Homo sapiens: one gene and its partners. The protein of the gene in region 2 interacts with the protein of the main gene of each other region in a biochemical or structural test. Each region holds a gene or a part of one and is shown on either strand. Other genes may lie near its edges.

Region 1 (3,746 bases), about 29 Mb from region 2:
ACAATTTATTTACTGTAAACTTTAGACTTTGCTCGGGAAAACAACTGAAGCTGCTCCTCAAATCCCTGCCTAAAATACCCCGTGTGAGCAAATAAGAGGAGTGGGGGAAGAGTCCATGTTCACAGCTGAAAGGTCCGAGATACTCAAAATCCTCAAGTCCAAGGGTGTAGGAAGGAAAATCTCCTTCAGATACAAATTACCAGCAGCAATATATTACCCCTAATACTTGAATAGTGAGGTAGATACATGGAAAAGTCATGAAAATATAGCAGACTCAGGTCCTCTAGGACTAAAGCTCTTTAGACATAAACTTACAAATTCCATGCAAAGAGGAACTGAACTGTACAAATAACAAATAATCACTCAAATAAGTTTTCTCTCTTTTTACAGCTTAAAAAAATAAAAAAGGCAGAAGGATGCCCTTCCTTCTGCATATCTCTATACAATTTTACAATTTTATTCTAAGTTTATTACCCTCAAGTTAAATAGTCTGTTTAGTGTTCTGTTGGGGGGGGGGGTCTTTAAAAGTAGAAAAACTGCTTTACAGCAGTGAGTCATTTGTACTACAATTCCTCCCTTGTGAATCAATGTTATCGCTAGGCACAGTACCTTGATGGCCCACAAAGTCTTCCGTGCCTGGGAGGTCTTCACACAGCAGTTTATTTTCTTTCTCCTGTTCCACGTGATATCCACTCTGCTCCCCTGTGTTGCCGTTGCTGGAGTAGCCATTCCCATAGGCCTTCAAAGAAGACCTGCGCAGGCACAGAAGCTCCTGGAAGGCAATCCTGAAATCTGGGCTCCGGCAGTAGATAAGGGGATTGAAACCAGAATTGACATAGCCTATCCAATTTAGGAGGATGTAAACTTCCTTACGGATGAGGTTATCCTGGATCACATGCACAATGTTAACGATGAAGAAGGGCAGCCAGCAGAGGGTGAAAGTGCCCATGATGATGCCTAACGTCTTGAGGGCTTTGTGCTCCTTCAAGCAGAACTTGGAAGATCTGCGGAGTCCATGCCCCGTCCGCCCATCCTGCTCCACCTGGCTAAGGTTCTGGACATGGAAGCGGCCCTCAGATTTGTCAATCTTCTGGAGCTGCCTTTTGGCCTCCTGAAAGACCCTGGAGTAGACGAAGACCATGATCACCAGGGGAACGTAGAAGGACACGATGGAAGAGGCAATGGCATAGGCTTGGTTCGTGAAGAAGTCACAGCAGGTCTCATTGGCATAGCAGTTGATGGCTTCCTGGTGGGTGGCCCGGTACCAGTGCATCTGAATGGGCAAGAAGGAGGTAAGGCCTGACACAATCCACACCATCAGAATGATCACCCGGGCCTTATTCTTGGTCAGCAGGCTCTGGTACTTGAAAGGTGAAGTAATGGCAAAGTAGCGATCCACTGCGATCACGCACAGGGTCTCAATGCTGGCCGTGACGCACAGCACATCAATGGAAGTCCAAAACTCGCACCAGAAGTTGCCAAAAGTCCACATTTTCATAAGAATATGGGCGGCCCCAAAGGGCACCACTGCCAGGCCCATGACCAGATCAGCACAGGCCAGTGAAGTGATGAAGTAGTTGGTGACCGTCTGCAGACGCTCGAACTTGGCAATGGCTGTGATGACCAGCACATTGCCAAACACGATGGCCAGGACGATGAGAGACATGACGATGCCCATGCCCACCACCCACACCTCGTCCCTTTCCTGCGTGACGTCGTGGTCCGGCGCATGGCTTCCATTGGGTGCCAGCAAGAAGGCGCTGCCGTTCCCGGGTTGCCCCATGGCGCGCAGTCTGGCAGGTGAGCGCACTGGCTGGGGGCGCCTCAGCGGGCGGACCCACGGCGGGGCTCTGCGGGCCGCGAGCGGACGCCTGGAAGCCTCATTCAGCGGCTGTGGTGTGGGTGTGGTGGGGACTCGTCCTGCACACTCAGCTTGTCGGGTGCTAGGGGCTCGCGGTGCCTGCCAGTTCCAGCCCGTGCTCTGAAGAAGCCGCTTCGCAGTGCGTTCTGCCCGTTATGTGCACAGGACTTTAGGGGAACTGCCCTCGCCGTGACGTACGGGAACTTTCGGCCAATGGCACGCCGGCAGCCGCGAAGGGGCGAGGCACTCCTCCCCTTTCCCTCCCCTCCCCTCGCCCTCCTTCTCCTGGGGCTGGCCCGGGCGGGGCCCAACTGCTCCCTGGAGGGCGGGCCACCACTGCTTCCCGGCTACCCTGGCTGGCCCCAGAGGGCTAAAGCTGGAGGTGGTGTCCTTACCAGCCAACCCGGGAGCTTTTGGCTCTTCTGTGGCCGCTACCTGCCTGCCCTGGGCGCCTGCGCGGCTTGAGGTCTCAAGGCAGAGGGCAGCACACCGGCACTGCCCCACATTCGGAAGGAAACGAGAGTGCCCACCGAGGCACGCACATACAGGCACAAATACACCCTGGCAGACATGCTCAGACTTATACCGAACCACAGCCATAGACACTGAGACACACCCTCCCAGCTCACCGACATGCACACTCGCGCGCGCTCTCACACAGAAGCCATCCGGCACAAAGTCACCCCTGTCCAACACAGAAACGCGGCCAGAAACAAACACAGAAGCACCCAGAAGCACAAAGACATGGTGACACACACAGAAAGTAAACACACGCTGGCTTGGAGGCATCCAGAGCGACACAGACACGGATGTCTCCATCTGGGTACTCCGAACTTGCCTCACCCGAGCACTGATAATGCTCCCCTCCCAACATACACCCGGTAACCCAGTGTATTCCCTTTCAAACATTTGGCAAGAGCACAGGAGGTGACTTCAACAGCTGCTGATTTCCTCAGCACACTCGCTGTCAAGTACTTTAGGTGCCCTCCTTAGGAATTTGCAGGCATGAAGACAGTTTTACCCTTTGGATTTTATCTGGAGCGGGGGTATGCAAGTATGTATTTTGGGACAGAGAGAGAAAGTTGTGTGCTTTTGTTTTAATTTTTTTGTTGTTTTGTTTTTAACTCTTGAGAGTGTGGCATCACTCACTCATTATCTGTTGAACTGGAGATGCAATGAGAATTCAAACAATTTCTTCAGTAAACCCAATGAAACTAAAAAAAATCCTTTCATCTGCTGGATAGTTTGTTAATCTTTCGGGTTGTGCCATGTGAAATTGCCACCATCTGGCGTCTGTGACTTACCAAAATGGCAAATTCATATGGTTCAGAGTATTAAGAATGTCTTAACATTAAGAACATTTTGAAGCTATAGAAAGCAAAAGATCCTGGCCAATATGGTGTAACTCTTGTCTCTACTAAAAATACAAAAATTAGCCAGGTGTGGTGGCACGTACCTGTAGTCCCAGCTACTCGGGAGGCTGAGACAGGAGAATCTCTTGAACCCGGGAGGTGAAGGTTGCAGTGAGCCGAGATCACGTCACTGCGCTCCAGCCTGGGTGACAGAACAAGACTCCATCTCAAAACAAAACAAAACAAAAAACACAAGATAATTCTCCCTTAAGAAAAAGAAAAAAGTAAGACCAAATCTCAAAAGTAAGATCTTTGTTCATGAAATACTATCCTTTCCATCTGGCATGTGACTTTACTGCTAAAGTGAAATTAATTTTCAGGGTTTGATTTCCCATGTATTAGTGGTGTCTTTGAAAAACTGAAAGTATTTCATGAAGTGTAACTAAACGTACTTTGTAGATTACATAATAACATAACAATGGTTAACATTTATGGACCATTCTGCTATTTGCTTTTCATGCATTATTCTATTT
Region 2 (3,746 bases):
AAATTCCTTAGGTGGCTCTCAAGGCCCTCCCTGATCCAGGCCCCTCCTGAGACTTCAGCCTCATTTCTTGCCCCCATGTCGACCCCATTGTGTACCACTGTGTACCTTTAAACCCCAGCTGGATGCTTAGGTGCTGAACGCAGGAGCCCTTCCTGACTTCCTCTACGGAACTTCGAACATGTGATACCCCTCTGTCCAGAAGGCTCTTTCCCTCCCTACTCCAGTAACCTGCACATTTTCACTGAATCTTCAGATTTCACTTGGACACAACAGCCTTCACTAAGTGAGGTACCTGCCCTATGTTCCACTGGGCCCTGGGTTTCCCTTTTTTTTTTTTTTTTTTGAGACGGAGTCTCACTCTGTTGCCCAGGCTGGAGTGTATTGGCACGATCTCGGCCCACTGCAAGCTCCACCTCCCAGGTTCACACCATTCTCCTGCCTCAGCCTCCCAAGTAGCTGGGACTACAGGTGCCCGCCACCATGCCCGGCTAATTTTTTGTATTTTTAGTAGAGACGGGGTTTCACCGCATTAGCCAGGAGGGTTTCCCTCTTTTAAGGTACTTAACTCCCTAGATCCTAGATCCATCCACTTTTCTCCGTCTCTATTGCCACCTTGTAGGTCCAGGCCACCACCATCTCTTTACTGGAATTCTGTAAACTCCTGACTGCTCTGCTTCCACTCTTGGCCCCCTAGGAATCCACCAGAGTGATATTTTTAAAATATAAATCATTCTTTCAAATGTTTCACATTTCACTTAGCAAAAACACTTCAGCCTCCTGGACGTGTTCACAGTCCTCCATGACCTAGCTAGTGCCTTTGCTCCTTCTGTCTCATCTCAGACCACTGGGCCCAGAAGCTGCGGACGCCTTCTCCTATTCCCTGAACACACCACTTAGTCTGGCTTAGAGCCTCTGCGTTTGCTGTTGCTTCTACTGGATCCGCTCAAATGTCACACCCTGAGAGTGTCACACACTCTCTTAACGTCCGAAGAGCAGTTGTCACTCTCTGAAACCATCTATTTGTTTATTTACAGAATAATTACCTTTATCTCACCCTGCCCTCACTTGCTCCCTCCACTTCTAGCAAGTAAGCAGGGAGCCTGGCTATCTTGCTGCCATCACTGTGTTCTCCAGCACCTGGCTTGGTGCCTGGCACAGAGGTGTTGCTCTGTATTTTCGGATGAATGAATGCATAGGAACTAGAGAAGCCTAGATGGATCCGGCTCTGCCTTACTCGCGGAGTTTGGGCAAGCCTGTTTCCTGCTGCGTGAAGTAGGGGGTGGAGGAAGCGGGGTGTTAAGCTACAAGGTGTTGATTAGCTGTAAGATTTCAGCCTTGTTTTCTCCGTAGTCTTCGGGCTGGAGCCAGCCACTTGACGTCCGGCGCCTCAGCTCCCCACCTGTATAATGGGTGTGAACTCATCCCGAGGTCTAGGGGTGGTAGCGCTGCCTTATAAGGCGGCAGAGGCCGAGGGAAGGCGAGGCCGAGTGGGTGGAGAGAAATCACAACATCCGGCTGCGGGGGCTGGGCGGGGCGCCTGCGGCGACCGGGCAAGAGGTCGGGGAACGGCTGCGAGGCCGCAGCCTCCTCCCTGTCTCTCCCTCTTTCGATGTGCGCCCTCCTGATTGGGGCCGACCCAAGGGAATACGGCCACACAAGTGGACCAAACAAACTCGCTGCCAGCCCGCAGGAGGCCCAGGATACGGAGCGCGTCCCCGACAAAACCCTAGAAAAGCCGTCTGCGAGCCAAAGGCCGCCGGGCCACACCTTCAGGCGACGACCCAATCAAAATGCAGTACTTGAGATGACGGACGTCTTCTTCACCCAATCACATATTCGGCCTCCTGGGCGTGCCCCAGAGTACCCACCTCCATTGTCCCGGCTGAGGGCTCGGCCCTAATTGGCAGTTTGGTATCCTACGAAAGCCTAGAAATTCGAACCTAGGGGCTGAACCCCGCCCTCAGACCAACCAGGAAGAGGTGACGTGATTGGTCCCGCCCCCGTACTTCTTTGAGCGAGTCCCCAGCTGGGGGGGCGGGGGAAAAAATGAAGAGGAAGACTAATGGGAAGACGGCGCGGGGAGCTTCTGCCCGGTGATTGGTCAAATGAGGTAAACAGAGGGCGGGGCAGGGCGGGCCAGCGCCGGGGTGGCCCCCGGGAGGGGGCGGAGAGTGCGCGGCTGGCTGCGGCGGCCGGGGAGGCCGGGGAGGCCGCGGCGCGGTCACTGCGAGCCGAGCCGAGCCGCGCCGAGCCGCGCCGATCGCCATCCGGCCTCGGCACTCGCGCGCGATCCCGGCCGGCGGCGCGGCCCGGCGGGCCAGGCGGCGCCACAGCCCATGGAGCTCGAGAACATCGTAGCGAACACGGTGCTACTCAAGGCCCGGGAAGGTGAGGCGGCCGGGTGGGCGGCCGGGCCCGGGTGCGTGGAGCGCGAGTGCGCTGCGTCTGAGCTCCGCAGGGCTACCCAGCCGTCGGATCCCCTAGGCCCGCGGGCCCTGCGCCTTACACCCCGCCCAGACACGAGCCTTTCCGGCCCGTCGTCTTCCTCCTCCGCACCTGCCCCCGGGATTCGGGGCCCAGGAAGGGGCGGGGGTCAGGCCGCCGCCCTCGCGGCGGGTGGGGGTGAAGGAGTGAAAGAAGGTGAGACGAAGAGGGAAGGGTGGGACCGGAGCCCCAGGAGAGCCTGTCTGAGAGGCAAGCCTCCTCCAGGGGAGAGGTGTAAAGATGCCCCACGTGCCAGGGGCCCAGACCCCAGCACCCTAGCCTAATCCCGCGCAAAGTTGGCGATAGGTAAAGCTGGAGAATGAATAAACGGACCCTCTGCGTAGCACAGCCCACCTGACTTGGGGAAACTCCTGGCCACAAATGCTACTTATAGGACTGCCACTTGCTCCGTGCCTCAGGACACTGAGGGCAGAGGTGAATGGATATTTGCCCTCAGGGAGCCCATGGTCTAGTGGGGCTAGCGGACACAGAAAGAAGTGGGAGCAGAGCATGCTGCTCTGTCAGTATTGTAAGCTCAGAGGTCTGGCTGGGGAAACCAGTCTGGTGGACCGAGTGTGTGTGTAGCTCCTCGTGGCTCCCACCCCAGATGTTATCAGGCACTTGCTCTGTGCAGGTCCTGGGAGACACAGAAGGACCAGATCGGGTCCTCACTGCCTTGTGGTCAGTCTGCCCCCACCTGCCACACTCCACCTCAGTAACATGATCACTGACCACCCACTCTGCCCCACCTTTTCCAGGGTGCTGGGGAAGCAGCAGTAAACAAGACCCATCTTTTTGGAACTCCAGGGCAAGGAGGGAGATTGTGACAGTTTTTCCACCCTTTGCTGGGCTTCCAGGCTTAAAAAGTCATCTGCTTCACCTTTCTACCATATTTTACATGTGGGAAGCTGAGGCTCAAACCAGGGATTAGCATCAGTCACACAGCAAGATTGTGATTGACTCGGGCCTAAGACACAGGATGACCGGCACAGTCTATAGGAAGCCCAGAGGAACTTTCAGCTGGGTGCTACACCTGGCACCCCGTGCCCACCAAGTGCTCTGGCGAGGTGCAGCCCAGAAATGGCATGGCAGGCTGGGTCCTCATTGCCTGGGGAGCCTGTCTTATCCCCTGTCCCTTATCGAGCCCATGGGCTAGGCCTTCCTCCCAGCCTCTGGGGGCATCTGCCGATTCTGTTCTGCCTCGTCATCCAACCAGCCAGGGAGGAGGGGTGGGGAGGGCCGAAACAGGCCTTCTTCCCTAG
Region 3 (3,746 bases), 800 kb from region 2:
CCCTGCCACCCTCATCCTGTGGCCTCATCAGGCCTCCCTGCAGTTTTTCTGTCCCCAGAGGCCCAAGTGACCGTTCTAAACTAATCACATCATGGCAGTCCCTTGCTTACAGTCTCTCGTGGCCATGATAACAACGTTTTGCCCTGGCCTGCAAAGGGCCCTCGTGAACTGTCTCCTGCCCATCGCTCTGACCTCACCTCCTACCACTACTTCCTGCCCTGCCCCCAGCTCACCCCAGGGCCTTTGCACCTGGCTTTTCTGCAGCCCTGCCCCCCTCTTATTACTCAGGGATGAGGCATTCTCTTCAGGGAGCCACTGGATGTCAACTCGCACTGCTGAAATGCTCTGTATCACCATCAGGAGATCAGGAACCATTCTTTCCTGTTCACTGTGAAACCCCAGCATCTGCAGGATGCCTGGCACATAGTAAGTGGACACAAAATATTTTTCAAATGGCCACAATCCAAATATGCCACGACCCTGGGCAAGTTATCCAACCCTGGCCTTTCTTCTGATACCAGCCAGTGGTTGCAAGGAAAGTGGACGGGGAAGAGAGCTGGCAAAGGTAAAACCACAAGAGTTGTGATGCAGGTGGACCTGGAACGCAACTCAACTCGGCCTTGGAGGTGCTGGAGGGAGGCGCCACAAGGGGAGGGGTGGGGCTTCAGAATCTATAAAGCTCCGTTCAAACCCCAGCTTCAGCATTTACCAGCTGCTGACCTTGGGCAAGGTACTTAGATCTCTGGGAAGCCCAGTTTCCCTTACCTGTAGAATGGGCCGAAGCATTACATGAGGAAATGGATGTTATGACATTTTACCCAGTACTTGGCATACAGAAAGTGTTCAACACCAGATAACTATTAATAATGGTAAAAAAGATAAGAAAAAGGAGGCTGTCTGCTTTCATCACTGCACTGGTCCCTGGCCTTTCAGCTGGAGCCCCCCACCTCATCAGCCCGCCCCGTGTCCCCATTTCCGGATACAGACCCAGGCTTCTATGGGCTGGCTATGTCCCCTATGACCCCTGCTGACCTCGCCCCATCTGCTGACTCATATTCTCCTGCCCAGAACCCCCCTCCCCGGGACCCGGCCCCAGCTCCACACTGTCGGGGGACCCCCAGCCCTGCAGCCCCAGAAACCCCGCCCCTTACCCACCGACGTAGAGGACGCCCTCCTTGGTCTTCTCCGCCGCCTCGGTGACCCCCTGCTTGGTTTTCTCCGCGGCTGCCACAACGCCCTCCTTGGCCATGGACAGGCCCTTCATGAACACGTCCATCCTGGCGGCCTGGGGAGGGCGATACACGGGCACCGGTGCACTGGCCCCGCACTCTCACCCCAGCCCCTCCCGCGGGACGCAGATGCCCCCCTACTCCCGAGACCGCGGCGCCCTTCTGGACCCTGAGCCCCCTCCCGCTTTCCCCCCATCCCACCCCACTCCCCAGTGCGAAGCCTCAGGGCCGCGGAGAGTCCTAGCGTCCTTGAAACCTGGGGACGCGGGAGGGGCCACTGCCTCGGTTATCCGGGCCCTGCAAACTGCAGCCCCGTCGAACCGGAGTGCTGGGTTCGGCGCGAATATCCAGGACCCGCCTGTACACGCACGGCACAGTCACACGGTCATGCACACAAACATACACCACGGACAAGCTCACGTGCACACACAGGACACGCAGACGCTCCAACGCGCACGAATACCCCGACCCACATGGGCGCGGACACACGTCCCCACAGCCGCCCGGGCAGCTGCAAACACCGGAGCATACTCACATACTCCGGGGTGCACACTGACGCGCATCCCCCGGGTCTCCCTCCATTTTCCATCCCCTTCCCCAGCTCCCTCCTGTCGCCCCAGTCCCCTCTCCATCCTCATCCCGTTCCCCATCCCCGGCGCGCGGCCGCCTCACCTGGATGCGGGGCCGGGGCTGGGGATGGAGCGGCGGCTGCGGCGGGCGGACGCGGGGGCTCCGCTAGGCCAGGCCGGGGTGGACCAGGGGCCGGAGGGGGGATAGGGCCGGGATCAGGCGCTCGGGTCGCGGGTCCTGAGCAGGAGCGCAGCAGTGCCCGGGTCTCGGGTGCGTAGCCAGCCACCGCTCGTTCCTCGCGCCCTGCGAGCTCGCGCGCTCCGGCTCCGGCTCCGGCTCCGGCGCTGCGGCAGCTCTGAGCTCAGCGCCCCCGCTGGCGGCCGCGCCGCCCCTTCGGCCTGACTGACAGGGGGCGGGGAGGGTGACAGCGCGTAGCCGATGAGCCTCCCGGGGCGGGCCCGGGACGCGCCCCTGGGGGCCCCGGCCGTAAGACTCGCGTAGTCTGTTGGGAGTTGAGGGAGGGGGACAACGCGGCGTGTGAAGAGTGGGGAAGAAATCACGCGACTGGATTTGGAGTTCTGCTGGGCTCGAATCTCAGCTGTGCTTTTTATTAACCGTGGGACCTTGAGCTACTCGGCTCTCCTTTCTGAATGACAGTTTCCTCCTCTGTAAAACAGGAATGGTTAATTCAACGAATGTTTACTGAGCGCTTAGTCCAGTGGTGCAGGTTTAAGGCTGGAGGCAGCGGAAAAGGAAAACAAGGTTCCTGGTCTCGGGAAGCTTACCATGGGGGTGTCTGTACGCGTGTGTGTTCGTGCGCTCAGTGGTGGAAGACAGGACAGAAAATAAACGGATCAACATCCAAAGCAACAAGGTCATTACAGCTTGTAAGTTGTGAAGGTAACGGTGATGTAACACGGGGACTAGAGGAGGGGTGCTTGAGACAGGGTGCTCAGGGAAGGCCTCTACCAGCAGGTGAATTGTAGCAGAGACTCCAGAGAGGCACCATGACACCACGATGGGTGAGGACAAGATCCATAGAGAGTGCAAGTGCAAAGGCTCCAAGGCAGGACTGTGCTGACAAAAGACAGCGCAGCTGGAGAGCCAGGATGGAGGGAGGTGGAGAACAAAACCACTTTTTTGTGTGCTTACGGTGGGGACTGTCAAAATGATCACAGAATGCCAGGCACACAGTAGGCCCTCAGTTGGTTCTATGATAGAATTATGCCCAAGAAGCTGTAGTATCCCAGAGGAAAGGGACTCTGACAACTTAGGGGAGTCAGGAAAGGACATAAAAAAGAGGTGACAACTGAACTGTGGCCTGACAGGAAGGGGACTATTTCATCGAGCAGGCTAGGGAGAAAGAGAATTTTAGGCTGTGGGTACAGCATGGGCAAAGGCACTGTGGCCAGAAATGCAGGGTGTGTAAGTGACAGGTAATTAGGCGAGGGGGCCACCAGCAGCCAGACTGCAAAAAAAAAAAAAAAGGAAAAAACCCAACCAACCAAACAAAAAACATTCACAGGCCGCTGGTAGAACTGCAAATTGGCGCAGACATTTTGGAAGGCAATCTGGCAATGTTTACCAAGCATAAATGCATGCGCCTTTGGAGCCAACAGCTCCCCTTCCAGGAATTGATCCCGTGCGACTCTAGCCATACATGCACACAAAGATACCTGTGCAAGGATGTTCACTGTAGCATGTTTTTTTGTAGCAAAAAACTGAAAATGATCTAAATGATCATCTGTACAGGACTGGCTAGCTAACTGTGGCACATCCACCCAGTGCAATGCCACACTATGGTTGGCAAAGATGAGCTAGACCCATGTGTGCTGACATGGGAGTGTGCCAAGATGTGGTGGTAAGTGTGAGAAGCAAGGTGCCAAACTGGAATGTGTGGAATGAGCCAATTTTGATACAAAGGGAATTATATTTTATGTATAAGTA

The links.
Region 1: the proteins of GRK6 (region 2) and ADRB2 form a complex in vitro, tested with the Homo sapiens proteins (2 studies listed by BioGRID, with this or other methods).
Region 3: of the proteins of GRK6 (region 2) and SNCB, one has a biochemical effect on the other in vitro, tested with the Homo sapiens proteins (one study listed by BioGRID).

What each region holds. Positions count from the first base shown.
Region 1 is NC_000005.10:148,824,869-148,828,614, reverse strand, and holds the start of ADRB2 (beta-2 adrenergic receptor), read right to left. Parts: upstream 2,005-3,746; 5' UTR 1,784-2,004; coding exon 542-1,783; 3' UTR 1-541. UniProt on the Homo sapiens protein: Beta-adrenergic receptors mediate the catecholamine-induced activation of adenylate cyclase through the action of G proteins. The beta-2-adrenergic receptor binds epinephrine with an approximately 30-fold greater affinity than it does norepinephrine.
Region 2 is NC_000005.10:177,424,510-177,428,255, forward strand, and holds the start of GRK6 (G protein-coupled receptor kinase 6), read left to right. Parts: upstream 1-2,166; 5' UTR 2,167-2,336; coding exon 2,337-2,388; intron 2,389-3,746.
Region 3 is NC_000005.10:176,628,379-176,632,124, forward strand, and holds the start of SNCB (beta-synuclein), read right to left. Parts: upstream 2,157-3,746; 5' UTR 1,902-2,156; intron 1,588-1,901; exon of another isoform or gene 1,431-1,587; intron 1,286-1,430; 5' UTR 1,277-1,285; coding exon 1,156-1,276; intron 1,123-1,155; exon of another isoform or gene 1,061-1,122; intron 1-1,060. UniProt on the Homo sapiens protein: Non-amyloid component of senile plaques found in Alzheimer disease. Could act as a regulator of SNCA aggregation process. Protects neurons from staurosporine and 6-hydroxy dopamine (6OHDA)-stimulated caspase activation in a p53/TP53-dependent manner.